2 linked regions of the Homo sapiens genome follow. The protein of the gene in region 1 purifies or fractionates together with the protein of each later gene. This does not show direct contact. Each region holds a gene or a part of one and is shown in the gene's direction. Other genes may lie near its edges.

The links.
Region 2: the proteins of SRSF11 (region 1) and RBM25 purify together in Homo sapiens (affinity purification with mass spectrometry; 2 studies listed by BioGRID and IntAct, with this or other methods). This does not show direct contact.

The regions. Positions count from the first base shown.
Region 1 is NC_000001.11:70,244,813-70,253,131, forward strand, and holds the end of SRSF11 (serine/arginine-rich splicing factor 11), read left to right. Parts: coding exon 1-3; intron 4-2,005; coding exon 2,006-2,095; intron 2,096-2,304; coding exon of another isoform or gene 2,305-2,320; exon of another isoform or gene 2,321-2,337; intron 2,338-5,118; coding exon of another isoform or gene 5,119-5,139; coding exon 5,140-5,235; intron 5,236-5,552; coding exon 5,553-5,691; intron 5,692-5,795; coding exon 5,796-5,993; 3' UTR 5,994-8,240; downstream 8,241-8,319. UniProt on the Homo sapiens protein: May function in pre-mRNA splicing.
Region 2 is NC_000014.9:73,061,534-73,069,192, forward strand, and holds part of RBM25 (RNA-binding protein 25), read left to right. Parts: intron 1-3,438; exon of another isoform or gene 3,439-3,560; intron 3,561-7,659. UniProt on the Homo sapiens protein: RNA-binding protein that acts as a regulator of alternative pre-mRNA splicing. Involved in apoptotic cell death through the regulation of the apoptotic factor BCL2L1 isoform expression.

The DNA.
Region 1 (8,319 bases):
AAGGTATAGCATTGGGTGAGAAAGCAAATTTTAGGGTTCCCAGTACCCCTAGTACTGTGCTACTTAGTAACAAAAGAGGTGGTTGGGGTGCGGGGCAGAGAAATAGGGCTAGACAGGGGAAGAAACTGTCAATATTTGAGTTTGAGGAGGCTGACGTTTGCTTTCTGGTGCTTCCTTGTAAACTGAAACTTCAGCTTACAGCTGAGGGCCTAAGTAAAATTTCTTAGTAGTAGGAATTGTTAGCTGTCCTGCTACCTTCTTTCATAAGAAATACCGTAACGTTTTATTTCCATCTAAAAATATATTCAAAAACCAGTCTTTTCGTGTAGAACCAAACACTTTTAAATTAGTATGCCCCCAGTCATTTATAGTTGTGAGGCATACAATTTCACAGCACTTAATTTTTTTAGCAACTGCTTTTTATCTCTTGCTAAAATATTTATCTTAATTTTCTAGAAGCAACTCTATATTTGGCATTATTTTGTTCATTTATATATTTAGTTAAATCATGTCATTAAAGTAAGTACAGCTGGGGACACAACATAACTTACTCTTGGGAAGCATAAAACTCAACTGATGAGAACAGAAGAGTGGGGGTAGCTTTACTATCATTGTTAAACCTGTAATAATGGGGCTTTTAGTCCTTATGTGCTGCAGAGTGAATCAAACAAGGTAGATTAATAGAACAGTTATACAAAGGAATTAAGCATTTCTTTAAGGACTTTCTGATTACTAGGAGAAGAGTGATGGATTTAATTACAGGGGAGGAACTGTTAAATGATGATTGCTACTTGCTGATATTGGAAGAGGTTTGAGAATGACTCGAGTATTAAATTCTGAAAGATTTGACTAGACTCAACGGGAGGCATGCTTTCAGGTGGAGAATGGTGTTTCTTGAAATAACAATATTTTGATGTAGTTGGACTAGAAAATGAGGTCAGAAAAATATAATGAGACCGATCGTGGAAGGCTTTGTTGTTCACACTATGCACTTGATCCAGGAGGCAACTGGAATGAGTTGAAAATGGTGAACAGGGAATTAATATTTTCAGGTTTGTACTTTAAAAGATTTCTGACAGAGTACAGAATCAGTTTATGGAAGGCATGACTGGGACCTACTAGGGGACTGTTCTAGTAATCTAGGAGTTAGATGATAAAGATTCAAATGAAGAGGGAACCAATGATAAAGATTGAATGAAGAGGGAACCGAGGATGACCAGAGAAGGGAAAAAAATGAAATTGAGAATGCAGAATGGAAAGATTAGCTTAGAACAGTAAGAGAGGGATACTTTGATTCTTAAAATTAGAGAATAGTTAAAGAGGGGGGTTGTTATGAGACTTCTCATTCAACAAATATATATCGTTTATCTACTCTTTGCTTAGAGTCTTGGGGAGAATGATGATCTTGGGGAAAAAATATTGTGAGGAGTAAAAATTTATAGGAATCTGTAAAAAAAAAAAATTGAGTTACGGCTGTAGTCAAAATCTGTTGATATTTTCTAATAAGCCCTGAATAGTTCATAATAGCCGCAGAAAAAGAAGCTTGCTTGATCCATGATAGAGGTTGACATGGGATGTGTGTCTTGGAAGAATATTCATGATATTGATGGATTTTGGTAGTGCTCTATGGGTTTTGGCCTGATAGGAGAGGTGGGTTGGGAAAGTGGTAATCAGCTGAGAGAAAAAGGAGTCTTGAGGAGCCTAGAGATAGTTAACTTATTGGTGTTTACCAAGTATATTTCAAGCCAACATCCTAGTTATTTTCTCACCCATAGTCTACTTTAGTCTACTTGGGAGAAAACCTAGGATAATAGGATTTTAAAAGAAGTTATTGTACTTCAAATATGCCACATAAAGTATTATTTTTAAAACAGTTTCTGTCAGAACAACATTTATGCTTTTAAGGATGGGATTAGATCTGATTATATTTTTGTGTTTGTAGTGCTATATAAATTGGCATCAGCTGAGTCTTCTAATGCATTCATAAATTGTGTTCATTTGTTAGAGACAAAAAGAAAGAAGACAAAGAAAAGAAACGTTCTAAAACACCACCAAAAAGTTACAGCACAGCCAGACGTTCTAGAAGTGCAAGCAGGTAAGGTGGCATTGTGAATTCTTGGCAATTATTTTTTTAACTTTGCTTCTAACAGTATCAGTACGCTGTCAGTATGAAGTCTTTTCCAGAACATAAGTATTTCAGTGTTGAAAAAAGTTACATTTTGCTGTTATTTAAAGTTTTTAAAAGGCAATTTGTGAAGAATAATGTAGTTTATTTTTCTTTTTACTTAATATTTTATGGTCTAGAGTATATTTGAAGTAACATGGAATTCAAGAGAGGTGAGTTTTTCTCTTTATAGTTTAAGTTTTAATGGCTAAACCATACTGAATTGTTCCATTAAGTAAGCTTATTATAGTAAGCTATATTTATCATCTGCATGTTAGTACTTGAGAATTTTTCTATCCCTTTTAATGACTGTTGAATTAATGGGAAGCAATGCAGGTTCTGGTTTGTGTCATTCTTAGACTAATTCTATCTTTAAGCTGTCAGTGAAAATTGAAATGTTGCAGACCTTACTGCACAAAAAGCACATTTTCATACTTAATTTGGGATTTATATGATAGTAAGGGCTGGACTTCATTCCATTTTTCAGATCTCATTCACATGTTTTGCTGCAGTGCTTGTTTTATTCATCAACATTACTTAAATTCACTAGGAGAAGGTTCATGCCATATAAAAAAAAATAACTGAAATGTATAAAAGACCTAAATGTAAGAGCCAAAACTATAAAACCTTTAGAAAGAAACAAAAGTGAATCTTTAAGACCATGAGCTTGGTGGTTTCCTAGATATGACTTCAAAAGCATAAGCAACAGAAGAAAAGAAAATTTTGGAATTCACCAAAAGTTAAAACATTTGTATTTCAAAGGATACTATCAAGAAAGTAAAAACCTAGAGTGCTAGTTAGAAAATTCTTTATATATTCTCTATTAAGAACTCTTAGAACTCAGCAATAGACAGGCAACCCAATTTAAAAATGGCAAAGAATCTGTAGCCATTACTCCAAAGGAGATATGCAAATATCTAGTAAGTACATAAAATCTGTTCAACATCATTAGTCACCAAGGAAATACAAACCAGACCACAGTGAGATATGTCACAGTCACTAGGATGGTTATAAATCAAAAAGACAGATGATAGCTGAGCCTGACAGATGATAGTAAGTGTTGATTAGGATGTGGAGAAATTAGAACCCTGTGCATTGCTAGTATGAATATAAACTGGTACAGGTGTTTTAGAAAACAGTCTGGCATTTCCTAAAAATGTTAAACATAGAGGTTTTTGACCCACCAGTTGTACCCCTGGGGGAAAATGAAAACATTTTCACAGAAAAACTTTTATGTGAATGTTTGTGGCATTATTTCATAATAGCCAAAAAGTTAACTATCCATTAACAAATGGATAAACAGAATGGTATATCTATACAATTGAATATTTTTCAGTGATAAATAAGGTTGATACATGCTACAGTATGGATGAAACTTGCAAACATCCATGAAAGGCCGTGTATTGCGTGATTCCTTTTATATGAAATGCCCAGAATAGGCAAATCTATAAAGATACCAAGTAGATTACTGATTGCTGGGGAGATAGGGAGGATTAGAGTGATAACTAAAGGGTAGGGAGTTTTTGGGGTGGTGAAAATTTTCTTAAAAACTAAATTTTTAAGCATGAAAATGAAACCAAATGTAAGTACAGAAGGAAATGCTGAATCAGGCCTGAGGGATAGGTGGCAAAGAGATAGAAAAGATGGAAGGTACTACATATATTTTCTTACCTTAAAAACTGTTGAGGATTTTTTTTTTTACCTGTTGCTTTATATAATGTACTTGTAAGTGCCTTCTCATGCTGTATTATTGGATCACTCTAAATTAAGGCATCTTCTGTGAGTTATTAAATACCCACTGTGTTTGTAGTTGTGCTACAGTCTGTTGAAGGACACGGAAATGTAATATAAAATACTTCTTCCGTCTAGAGAATTTGGAGTTTCAGTTACATAAGACAGTAGCAAAAAGTATAAGGTGCACAGTCGTGACAATGTTTGATAAGTGAATGCTCAGTTATGTGTAACGTTTCCAGGACAAGGGTCACAGAGGGCTGTGTAAGTAGAAAAAAAGCTTCATTTGGAAATTAGACAACTAAGTACAGGGTTTTTTAAGTCTGATAACTTTTGAGAATCAGGAACAGAATTTTTTTTTTTAAGTTACAGTAAAAAGGAGGGGAAGGCTGTATATCAGCTGTATATCTTCAAAGTAATTGGTGAAAGCAGGGTTTTGGGGGACTGCAGGAGGGCGATTTTGCTAGAGTATAAGGTTTCTACCTTTCCACTAACTAGTTCTCTGAATTTCATCTAATGATTTAAAGGTGAATGTGGGGATATTTTATTAGTAACTACCTTCTATATCACATTATTGAATTATTCTGTACTTACTCTGAACACTGAATGTTTGAACCAAAAACTAACTTCTTCAGTAATAGTTTACTTCACACGTCACCCCTCTCGCATTAGTTTTGTTAAATCAGTTTTTTCTCAAGCTTAGTATTTCTAACATTTTGTCATCAATTAAAAGAATTACTAGAAATTAGGAGTTTTCTTGAGGGTAGTAAAGGGAAAGATTCATGGTTTGCAGATGATTATATTACTCATTTAATTGTTTAGCTTATACCAGTATTGTGAAACAATCTTTCATTTTTCTGTTTTTTTGAGACAGGGTCTCTCTCTGTTGCCCAGGCTGGAGTGCAGTGGCCCTATCACAACTCACTCCAGCTTCAACCTCCGCAGGCTCAAGTGATCTTCCTGCCTCTGCCTCCTGAGTAGCTGGGACTACAGGCATGCACCACCACACCTGGCTAATTTTTTTGTATTTTTTGTAGAGACAGAGTTTCACCATGTTGCCCAGGCTGGTCTGGAACTCCTGGGCTCAAGCAATCCCCTCACCTCAGCCTGCCAAAGTGCTGGGATTATAGGCATGAGCCACTACATCTGGCCACATCTTTCATTGTTAGAATCATCTATGATGTGTCTGCATTTTTAAGATCACACTGTATTTTAAAACCTAGTTTGCACATTTGTGATTCTAGAGAGAGACGACGACGAAGAAGCAGGAGTGGCACAAGATCTCCTAAAAAGCCTCGGTCTCCTAAAAGAAAATTGTCCCGCTCACCATCCCCTAGGAGGTAAGAATGTTAATCATTTAAATGTATTTTTTATATTTTTCAGAGGTTTTTCATTTTAAAACTGTCCTGTAGTTTTTCTTTTCAGCAGTTACAGTTCTTAAGAATGTTTTAATGTATTCTCCTTCTGACTTGTGACTTAAACACCATTAAGGACTGAACATTTTAGTCCTATAAACAAGTTAGTTTTGTAGCCTGTGTTACTTCTCCAAGGTTTTGAAGTTGGATCTTTGCTGTACTACTTATATCCTGTGAAATTGAGTCAGGCTCATCATCTAAACAAGTTAAACCTGTTGCTGTACATTTTACTGTCATTCTAGACATAAAAAGGAGAAGAAGAAAGATAAAGACAAAGAAAGAAGTAGGGATGAAAGAGAACGATCAACAAGCAAGAAGAAGAAGAGTAAAGATAAGGAAAAGGACCGGGAAAGAAAATCAGAGAGTGATAAAGATGTAAAAGTATGTTTACAAATTGATTTATTTTTATATTTGGGGTGATGTTGGTACTTTCAGAAGTTATTTTTCTTTGGAGAAGTTTACTTTTATTATTCTCCTTGGCAAAGCAGGTTACACGGGATTATGATGAAGAGGAACAGGGGTATGACAGTGAGAAAGAGAAAAAAGAAGAGAAGAAACCAATAGAAACAGGTTCCCCTAAAACAAAGGAATGTTCTGTGGAAAAGGGAACTGGTGATTCACTAAGAGAATCCAAAGTGAATGGGGATGATCATCATGAAGAAGACATGGATATGAGTGACTGAATATTGCCTCTGAGGGAGTCCAACTGTATACCTGCATCAGTGTCATTCCTTTGTGTGATTTCTTAATGCTGTATTTGTTCATCTCAAACCTAGATGTATACAGCTCTGAGTTATAAATGGTTATAAAGCTCCTGTTACTCATATTAGTTATTTACATCAAAAAGCTTTTAGAAAATGGTACGAGGTAACCAATTCTTGTCATGGTGAAATCTGATTGAGTAACCAAGCAGTTTTACTATTCTGGTGCTGCTTCATAACAAAAATGAAAAGCTGCATGCATCTACAGCAGGCATGGATTGTTTATGTCGTATGATATCCTTTATTAAGTAAGTTCACTTATAGTATTTCTATAATTTGATTCATTGCCGTAATAGAGCCATGTAGGAAATGCACTGATTGCATGTTATTGTGGCAAGAATATCCTAAATGTCATTAAAATCCTCCAACATGATGGATCTACTTATGGTCTTGTTTGTTGACATGACAAATTAACATTCTTATAGTTACATCTGGAAATGAGCATTTGAAATAGATAATCCTTTAAGCCTTGTGGCAAAATTTTTGTGGCTTTTGTTTAACTTTGAAAGGTTATTATGCACTAACCTTTTTTGGTGGCTAATTAGGGTTTAAATACAGAAACAAGATTTCAAATAAAACTGTCTTTGGCAGTGAGTAAATAGCATATTTTGAAGTAGAGTTGTATACTTTTTCATAAGATGTTTGGGAATTTTTTTCCTGAAGTAATAATTTATTCCACATCTACATCAGTGAAAGCTATCTACCTATCCTGAGTCTATCTTAAAGGAAAAAAAGAAAAAAACCTTATCTCTTGCCCTTATTTTGAATTTTCCACTCTTTCATTAATTTGTTTTAAGCTCCGTGTTGGAAAAAAGGGGTAGTGCATTTTAAATTGACCTTCATACGCTTTTAAAATAAGACAAATCTACTTGATAATGTACCTTTATTTGATCTCAAGTTGTATAAAACCAATAAATTTGTGTTACTGCAGTAGTAATCTTATGCACACGGTGATTTCATGTTATATATGCAAAGTAGGCAACTGTTTTCTTAGTTACAGAAGTTTCAAGCTTCACTTTTGTGCAGTAGAAACAAAAGTAGGCTACAGTCTGTGCCATGTTGATGTACAGTTTCTGAAATTGTTTTACAAGACTTTGATAATAAAACCCTTAAACTTATGTTCATGTTCCTGTAAAACCGTATTTGTATTTATTTACGCTACTGAATGTATGACATTTACCTCATTCATTTTACAAATTCTTTCCCTTTCTGTCCACATATTTCAGTATAGTAAAAAGAGGAAGTCTATCACTGTAGTGATAATTGCCATCAAAATTGTCAAAAATGATTTAATTTCTATCCAAAATAGTCCTTTTCTTAGCTTAGTATCATTTTATTGCTTATTTTTTGTGTGGGAATGGGGTTGGATAAAGCAATGAACTTTAGTATAAACAAATCCCACCTATATCTAGCAAATTTATATTTTCGGTGAAATACAGATATTTGCCTTTCTGGAGTAGTATAGAAGCTGTCAATATGTATCTACTGTACAGTACTAAATAGTATTCATTTATGAAATGAGTAGTGTTTGGGTGGCTGGGGTTAAGGGAAAATGAGACTTGGAATTGTAGCTTTTATCCAAGTTTTGAGTATAAATAGGGTTTTGTTTTGTTTTTTTTAACCTAAAAACTGAAATGCCATATAGAAAAACAGCATTGTTTTTACAGTTTGTAGTAAGTAACTTTTTAAAGATTTTATCAAAAAGAATTGTCTATAGTGAGTAAAAGAAGTTCTAATAATGGTCCTAATCACTGCATTTTTAAAAAACAAAGTTCAACACAAATGACATTTGTTTTAAACTTTAGTAGATAAAAGGTGAACCATGTGACATGGGCATTTTTGTAAGTCAAAAACAAATTTCACATATGGTAAACCTAATATTCACAGTGTGTTCCCTCACTTGTAATCTCTGAATACAAATATACTAGCTTTTCTAAAGGGAATCATTTTTTTAAAAGTAGTGCCACTGACAAGATGCTACAGTGAAGATTATCCATTCTTAGGATATTTATTTTCAGTGAACATTTTCTGCACAAAGGTAGTGTTGCACTGGGACACAAGCCTTTTAACAGATAACCAGTTGAAATCAAACACTGCCTCCACACCGAGTTCTGTTGTGTATTTGATAGTAAATTGATTTAAAAATAAAAGTGGTTTTTGTTAGAAAAATGTTTTGTCCTTATTTATTTGCTTAAATCCTTTAGGAGTGAACGAGAGGTGGTAGCTATACAATGAGCTTTTTTAAATG
Region 2 (7,659 bases), on another chromosome or scaffold:
ATTTTTCTGTATAGATAGTAGTAGATAGCGCTGCTTTTTTGTTTTATTTGGTTTTTGAGATGGGGTCTCTTTCACCCAGGTGGAGGGCAGTGCTGCGATCTTGGCTCACTGCAACTTCCGCATTTCAGGCTTAAGCAATCCTCCCACCCCAGCCTCCCAAGTAGCTGGGACCACAGGTGCACGCCACCATGCCTGGCTATTTTTTTGTATTTTTGGTAGAGATGGGGTTTCACCATGTTGCCCAGGCGGGTCTGGAACTCAGGCTCAAAGGATCCACCTGCCTCGTCCTCCCAAAGTGCTGGGATTACAGGTATGAGCCACTGTGCCCAGCCTTGTTTTTGTTTTTAAAAAGATGAATTCTTCCTGTGTTGCTCAGGCTGGAGTGCAGTGGCTATTCACAGGCGTAATCCCACTATTGATCAGTTTGGGAGTTTTGCCCTTCTCTGTTGGCAACCTGGTGGTTCTCTCTCATCCCAGGAGGTCACCATATTAATGCTGAATGGACTTAGCATGAACACCTGATCAGTAGCGTGCTGCAGCCCAGAACTCCAGGGCTCAAGTGATCCTCCTGCGTAGCTGTGACTATAGGCAGGCACAGGAGTGTTGCTCTTTAATCATTGAAAATGGTAAAACAACAAAAGTGGCAATGTCAGAAAAAGATCAACTCTTTTTTGGAGATTTCCAAACAATTGAGTATTTTCATACTTCTGAAAAGCTTTGCTGTAAAAGTAGTTTTTCTGTTAAGCATTTCCCATTCTTCTTTGGGCATAAAACACTTTTTTTTTTCTAGGAATAATTCCTGCAGACCTGACACATAATTGGAAGTAGATATTGAATGAATGAGTGAGTTGTATGTGAATATTTGCTCAGAGGAATCTCAGTTCATTATCATTTCAGAAATTTGGCACGTAGTGTACTGATGGAGCTAGTCTAAAATAATCTATCCTGGGAGAAATAATTTTGTTTCTATCTGGATAAGTCTACAATAGAGGAATGCTTATTAGCAGTGTTTTGCTGTATTTTGCATACTTGCAGTATTCTTAAGAGTGCAGAAAAAAATAGTTTGAAAGATTCAAAGAGAAAAAAGTGAAAAAAGAAAAGCTGAGTGCATGCATATGTTGAGTACTAGAGATATGTCTTCAGGGTTTCTTTTTGGACCAGATTTCTTGAGATAAAATTTGCATACAATAAAATGCATCTGTTTTAATTTCAATGAGTTTAGACAAATGCATATACTTGTGTGACCACCGCTACACTAGAGGTAGGGAACCCTTCTATCATAGGTTTCTGTTATTTTATTTAATTTTTGGGGGGCCTCACTCTGTCGCCCAGGCTTGAGTGCAGTGGTGTGAGCTCGGCTCATTGCAACCTCCACCTCCCGGGCTCAAGCGATTCTCCCATCTCAGCCTCCTGAGTATCTGGGACCACAGGTGCATGCTACCACACCTGGCTAATTTTTTGTATTTTTGGTAGAGATGGGGTTTCACCATGTCGCCCAGGCTGGTCTTGAACTCCTGAGCTCAAGTGATCTGCATGCCTTGGCCTCCCAAAACGCCGGGATTACAGGTATGAGCCACTGCACCTGGCCCAGGTTCCTGTTTTTATTATCGTGGGCTATAGAGTTTCTTTTTTTTGAGATGGAGTCTGGCTCTGTCGCCCAGGCTGGAGTGCAGTGGCACAATCTCTGCTCACTGCAAGCTCCGCCTCCCGGGTTCACGCCATTCTCCTGCCTCAGCCTCCCGAGTAGCTGGGACTACAGGCGCCTGCCACTATGCCCGGCTAAATTTTTGTATTTTTAGTAGAGACGAGATTTCACTGTGTTAGCCAGGATGGTCTCGATCTCCTGACTTCGTGATCCACCCACCTCGGCCTCCCAAAGTGCTGGGATTACAGGCTTGAGCCACCGCGCCCGGCCCGGAGTTTCATACTTAGCAGGAAAAGGTGCTTTGAACCTTCTAAAATGTGAGGTACTTTCAATATTTTAAAAAATGCTATGGAAATGATTTCAGTGCCATAAGATAACTCTGCATTTCTCTCTTTTAAATCCCACATATTATACAATCCCTCAGCAAATCCTATTGGCTGCCTTCAAAATATATCCAGGATCCAACAACTTGATAGCACTTTCACCACTACCACCTGTTCCAGGCCACCATCTCTCCAGGCTACCATCTCTTATATGGATTATTGTACCAGTCTCTTGCTTGTATCCTGTTCCCTTCCAGGCTTAACACAGTGGCCAGTGATACTGTTAAAATGTGACAAGTCAGAAACTCTTCAAATGATTTTCACCTCATTCAGAGTTAAAACTAAAATGTTTATTTACATTGTGTTACATAGCCCTACACTCTACTCATAATACTCAGTATTTATTTCTGATTTTCTTCATTTATTCTGCTCCAGTCATACTGTTGGCCTTGCTATTCCTCCCTCAAATACACCATTCCTGCTTCAGCCTCTTTGTATTTGTCTTTTCCTTTGCTTGGAAGTCTCTTTCCCCCAGATATGAATAGGGCTTCCTGCCTCTGCCTCTTTTAAATCTTTGTTCTAATCTTCACCTTCTTGGTGAGGCCTAATCGCTGTATTTAAAATAAACTACTCCATAGCTCTCTTCCCTAATTTATTTTTCTACAAAGTACATACCATCTTTCAATGTATTATAATTTATTTTGTTTATCATCTATAGGTAACAGATAAGCTTTGCTTATGATTATGAAAGTTAATTCTCAATCAGTTTCACATGGCAAAACACATAAACCTGTGTTGAAATAAGTAGTTGGTAATCTTTTAGGCTGCTTAAAGTGGACATTAGTATTTATCAAAGATGAGAAATGTTTTCTGATTTTCCATGAGAGACCAATCTTTTTTATTTTTGTTTTGAAATGGAGTCTCGCTCTGTCACCCAGGTTGGAGTGCAGTGGCGCGGTCCCAGCTCACTGCAACCTCTGCCTCCCAGGTTTAAGCAATTCTCCTGCCTCAGTCTCCCGAGTAGCTGGGACTACGGGCGCCTACCACCATTCCTGGCTAATTTTTGTATTTTTAATAGAGACGGGCTTTCACCATGTTGGCCAGTCTGGCCTCGAACTCCTGACCTTGTGATCCGCCCGCCTCAGCCTCCCAAAGTGCTGGGATTACAGATGTGAGCCACCGCGCCCAGGAGAGGCCAGTTATCTTAAAGGAATATCCATAAAAATTAGCTGTTAACTGGTATTTTTGCCTTCACCTTTGAAGTCCAGCCTATCAACAAGCAAGTTTTGGCAGCTCCAAATAAAGGGGAATATGTTATGGAAAAATTTGAAGTGAATGGAATGGGTATATTGGCATAAACGAAAATTAAATATATCTGGTTAACTCTGCAGAATGAATTACACATTTAAAAACCATAAAATATAACTTAAATACCAAGAATATAGAGTTTTACTTTTTTTTTTTTTTTAGACGGAGTCTTACTCTGTCGTTCAGGTTGGAGTGCAGTGGCGCGACCTCGGCTCACTGCAACATCTGCCTCCCAGGTTCAAGCAATTCTCCTGCCTCACCTTCCAGAGTAGCTGGGATTACAGGTGCGCACCACCACACCTGGCTAATTTTGTTTGTTTGTTTGTTTGTTTTCTTTTGAGACAGAGTCTCACTGTGTCACCCAGGCTAGAGTGCAGTGGCGCGATCTCGGCTCACTGCAACCTCGGCCTCCCGAGTTCAAGTGATCTCCTGCCTTTGCCTCTTGAGTAGCTGGGATTACAGGCACCCGCCACCACACCCAGCTAGTTTTTGTATTTTAGTAGAGACGGGGTTTCACCATGTTGGCCGGGCTGGTCTCCAACTCCTGACCTCAAGTGATCGGTCTGCCTCGGCCTCCCAAAGTGCTGGGATTACAGGGGTGAGCCACTGTGCCCAGCTAATTTTTTTTTTTTTTGAAACTGAGTCTTGCTCTGTCGCCAAGGTGGAGTGCAGTGGCGCAGTCTTGGCTCACTGCAACCCCTGCCACCCAGGTTCAAGCAATTCCCCTGCCTCAGCCTCCTGAGTAGCTGGGACTACAGGCGCACACTACCATGCCTGGATAACTTTTTGTATTAGATACGGGGTTTCGCCGTGTTGGCCAGGATGGTCTTGATCTCCTGACCTTGTGATCTGCCTGCCTTGGCCTCCCAAAGTGCTGGGATTACAGGCATGAGCCACCTCACCCAGCCCAGTGTTTATATTTTTAGTGGAGACAGGGGTTTCACCATTTTGGCCAGGCTGGTCTCGAACTCCTGACCTCCAGTGATCTGCCCGCCTTGGCCTCCCAAAGTGCTGGGATTACAGGTGTGAGCCACCGCCCCTGACCGAGAGTTTTAGTTTTTAAGCATTATTTATATCTAATATTATTGGGGGAAAAGTGGTTTTAAAAATGAGTTCATGGCCCAGTCTTGTAACCATTGTGAGGCTAGGCACTGGGCCATTGCTAGAATATAGTATGCGGCATGAGATAGCATAATAAATTTGTTTATTGAAGTCCTCAGAGTTTGTTTACTGATTTATTCATTAATCAGTTTATTCAACAGGTATGAAAACCAACTATCCTAAGAAAGCACTGAGATAGGCTATTATAATGATAATAGAAGAGCTTCTGTAAGTAGGACAGTAGCCCTTTCTGTTTTAAAAAGAGATACCACCCCCAGTTTTTGGTTTTGGTCAAAAAGTTTTACAGAAAGTTTATTTTAAAACTCAACACATTTACAGTCTTGCAATCTTGTGTTTTTCATTGTTAATATGTACTGATAACCTACCTACTGTTTAAAACATTTCTAATACCTCATTTGCCAAGTATATTAAATCCTCCTAAGGGCTGGGCGCAGTGGCTTATACCTGTAATCCCAGCACTTTGGGAGGCCGAGGCCGACGGATCACTTGAGGCCAGGAGTTTGAGACCAGCCTGGCCATACATGGTGAAACCCCGTCTCTACTAAAAATACAAAAATTAGCTGAGCTTGGTCGTGCGTGCCTTGTGGTGTGCACCTGTAATCCTAGCTACTTGGGAGGCTGAGGCAGGAGAATCGCTTGAACCCGACAGGCGGAGGTTTCAGTGAGCTGAGATGGTGCCTCTGCACTCCTGGGTGACAGAGCAAGACTCCATCTCAAAAAAAAAAAAAAAAAAATGCATCCTAGGGATTCCTTTACCTATAAAGTTTTCTAAATATTTTAAGTATACTGTGTTTTCTGAAATTGAAGTTTAGTTTTATTGAATATGGTATTATCCCAATTTAAGTCAAAGGAATTCTGAGGAAGTAGAGCTGTGAGCATGTAGGTCATGCTTTTCTGTTTTAAAGAAATGTCTAGTAAACAGGTAAACGCATACTCAACCTCATTAGTCATGAGGGAAATGTAAATTGAAATAAGAGTATATTTTACTTATGAAATTGTGAGAATTTTGACACTGATCTATTCTACCAATGATGAGGATATGAGGAAAGGGCATACCCATATTCTGGTGGTGGGAATATACATTTATATGCTAGTTTTCAGGGATGATTTTGGAGGTAAAGTTTGGATACATATAATTTTTTTTTTTTTTTTTTTTGATGTGGATTCTTGCTCTGTCGCCCAGGCTGACGTGCAATGGCACCGTCTCGGCTCACTGCAACCTCCGCCTCCCAGGTTCAAGCGATTCTCCTGCCTCAGCCTCCTGAGTAGCTGGGACTACAGGCACCTGCCATCACACCCAGCTAATCAGATACATATAGTTCTAACCTGTATTAGAGAATTACCTGTACAGATGCATACAGTTATATGTCTATTATCTCCAGGAATGTTCAACATTATTTGTGAGAGCTGAAAGTGGAGCCAACTGTTAATGTTGGTTAAATAAATATGTCCGTATTATAATAATTTACTGCATTATTATTATTTTATTATTTTTGAGGCAGTCTTGCTCTGTCACCAGGCTGGAGTGCAGTGGCTTGATCTCGGGTCACTGCAGCCTCCACCTCCCGGGTTCAAGCAATTCTCCTGCCTTAGCCTCCCAAGAGCTGGGACTACAGGCATGTGCCACCACGCCTGGATAATTTTTGTATTTTTTTCATGTTTTATTGCCTGTATTTTTTTTTTTTTTTTTGAAACAGAGTCTCGCTCTGTTGCCCAGGCTGGAGTGCAGTGGCGCGATCTTGGCTCACTGCAAGCTCCGCCTCCCAGGTTCACGCCATTCTCCTGCCTCAGCCTCCCTAGTAGCTGGGACTACAGGCGCCTGCCACCGCACCCAGCTAATTTTTTTTTTTTTTGTATTTTTAGTAGAGACGGGGTTTCACCGTGGTCTCGATGTCCTGACCTCGTGATCCACCCGCTTCGGCCTCCCAAAGTGCTGGGATTACAGGTGTGAGCCACCGCGCCCGGCCTGTATTTTGTTTTTATATGTATCATTAATTCTTAAAAATTAAGATTTTGAATCTCTTTGGATATTTATTAGGCTTCAAAGATCTTGATGGAGCAGTCTGAGTTGACTGCCAGTTTCTTAAGTTGGCGGTAAGGCTGGGGTGCAGCGCACACTGGTTTAGCGTGAGCAGTGATCACTAAGCACATGAGCTACGACCACCCCAACTTTACCTCGTTCACAGACAGAACTGGAAGGTTGGTCCTAGATGGCTGCTTGGTCCTGGATGCTTTAGTGGTCTCTTGATATGTGGAAAGCCTTGTTTTGGAACAAATGTTTCCATTGATACAGATGAGAAATGCCTCTTTAATATTTTTATAAACCATTTAGACCCCAATAGATTTGGTTTGTGGGTCACTCTCTTGTGAGTACCAAAGGATTTCATGGTTGGAAGGTGTGCCTTTTCGTCTTGGCAGTGAGCAGCATTTAATGGAGAGACAATGCTTGTATTTGATTTTTTTTTTTTTTTTTTGGTTCATTTACAGGATCTGAGACTTATTCAGACTACCAGCTGTATTATCAGGAAGGAACAAATCCAAGTTTTGACGTATTGTCAGTGTGCCGCATGTTGTATTTTCAAATTCCTTTAGTGGTTTTAACATTAGATGACCAATTCTTTGGCACTGATGTGCTTTTGCCAGTGTACGGTAGATCTGACCATGGCTCTGAGAAGTCTGGCTGGCATTACCACATCCCAAGCTCTCTGTCCAAAGAGAAGGAAGCGCCAGGGACGCACGCTTCCTTGGCTGGACTGCAGGAAAAGAGCTGCAGCACCAGCCTCTCATTACTGCAGCCACCCCCTCTCCTAATTTTTGTATTTTTAGTAGAGATGGGGTTTCACCATGCTGGCCAGGATGGTCTCAATCTCTTGACCTTGTGATCCACCCACCTCGGCCTCCCAAAGTGCTGGGATTATGAGCGTGAGCCACCACGCCCAGCCAATTTACTGCATTATAAAGGTGGAATAAGACTTTATTTTTATTTTTTATTTTTTTAGACAGACTCTGTCACCCAGGCTGGAGTGTAGTGGCACGATCTCAGCTCAGTGCAAACTCCGCACCCTGGGTTCAAGTGATTCTCTTGCCTCAGCCTCCCGAGTAGCTGGGATTACAGACATGTGCTACCACACTTGGCTGATTTATGTATTTTTAGTAGAGATGGGGTTTCACCATGTTGGCCAGGCTGGTCTAGAACTCTTGACCTCACGTGAGCCCCCTGCTTTGGCCTCCCAAAGTGTTGGGATTGCAGACGTGAGCCAC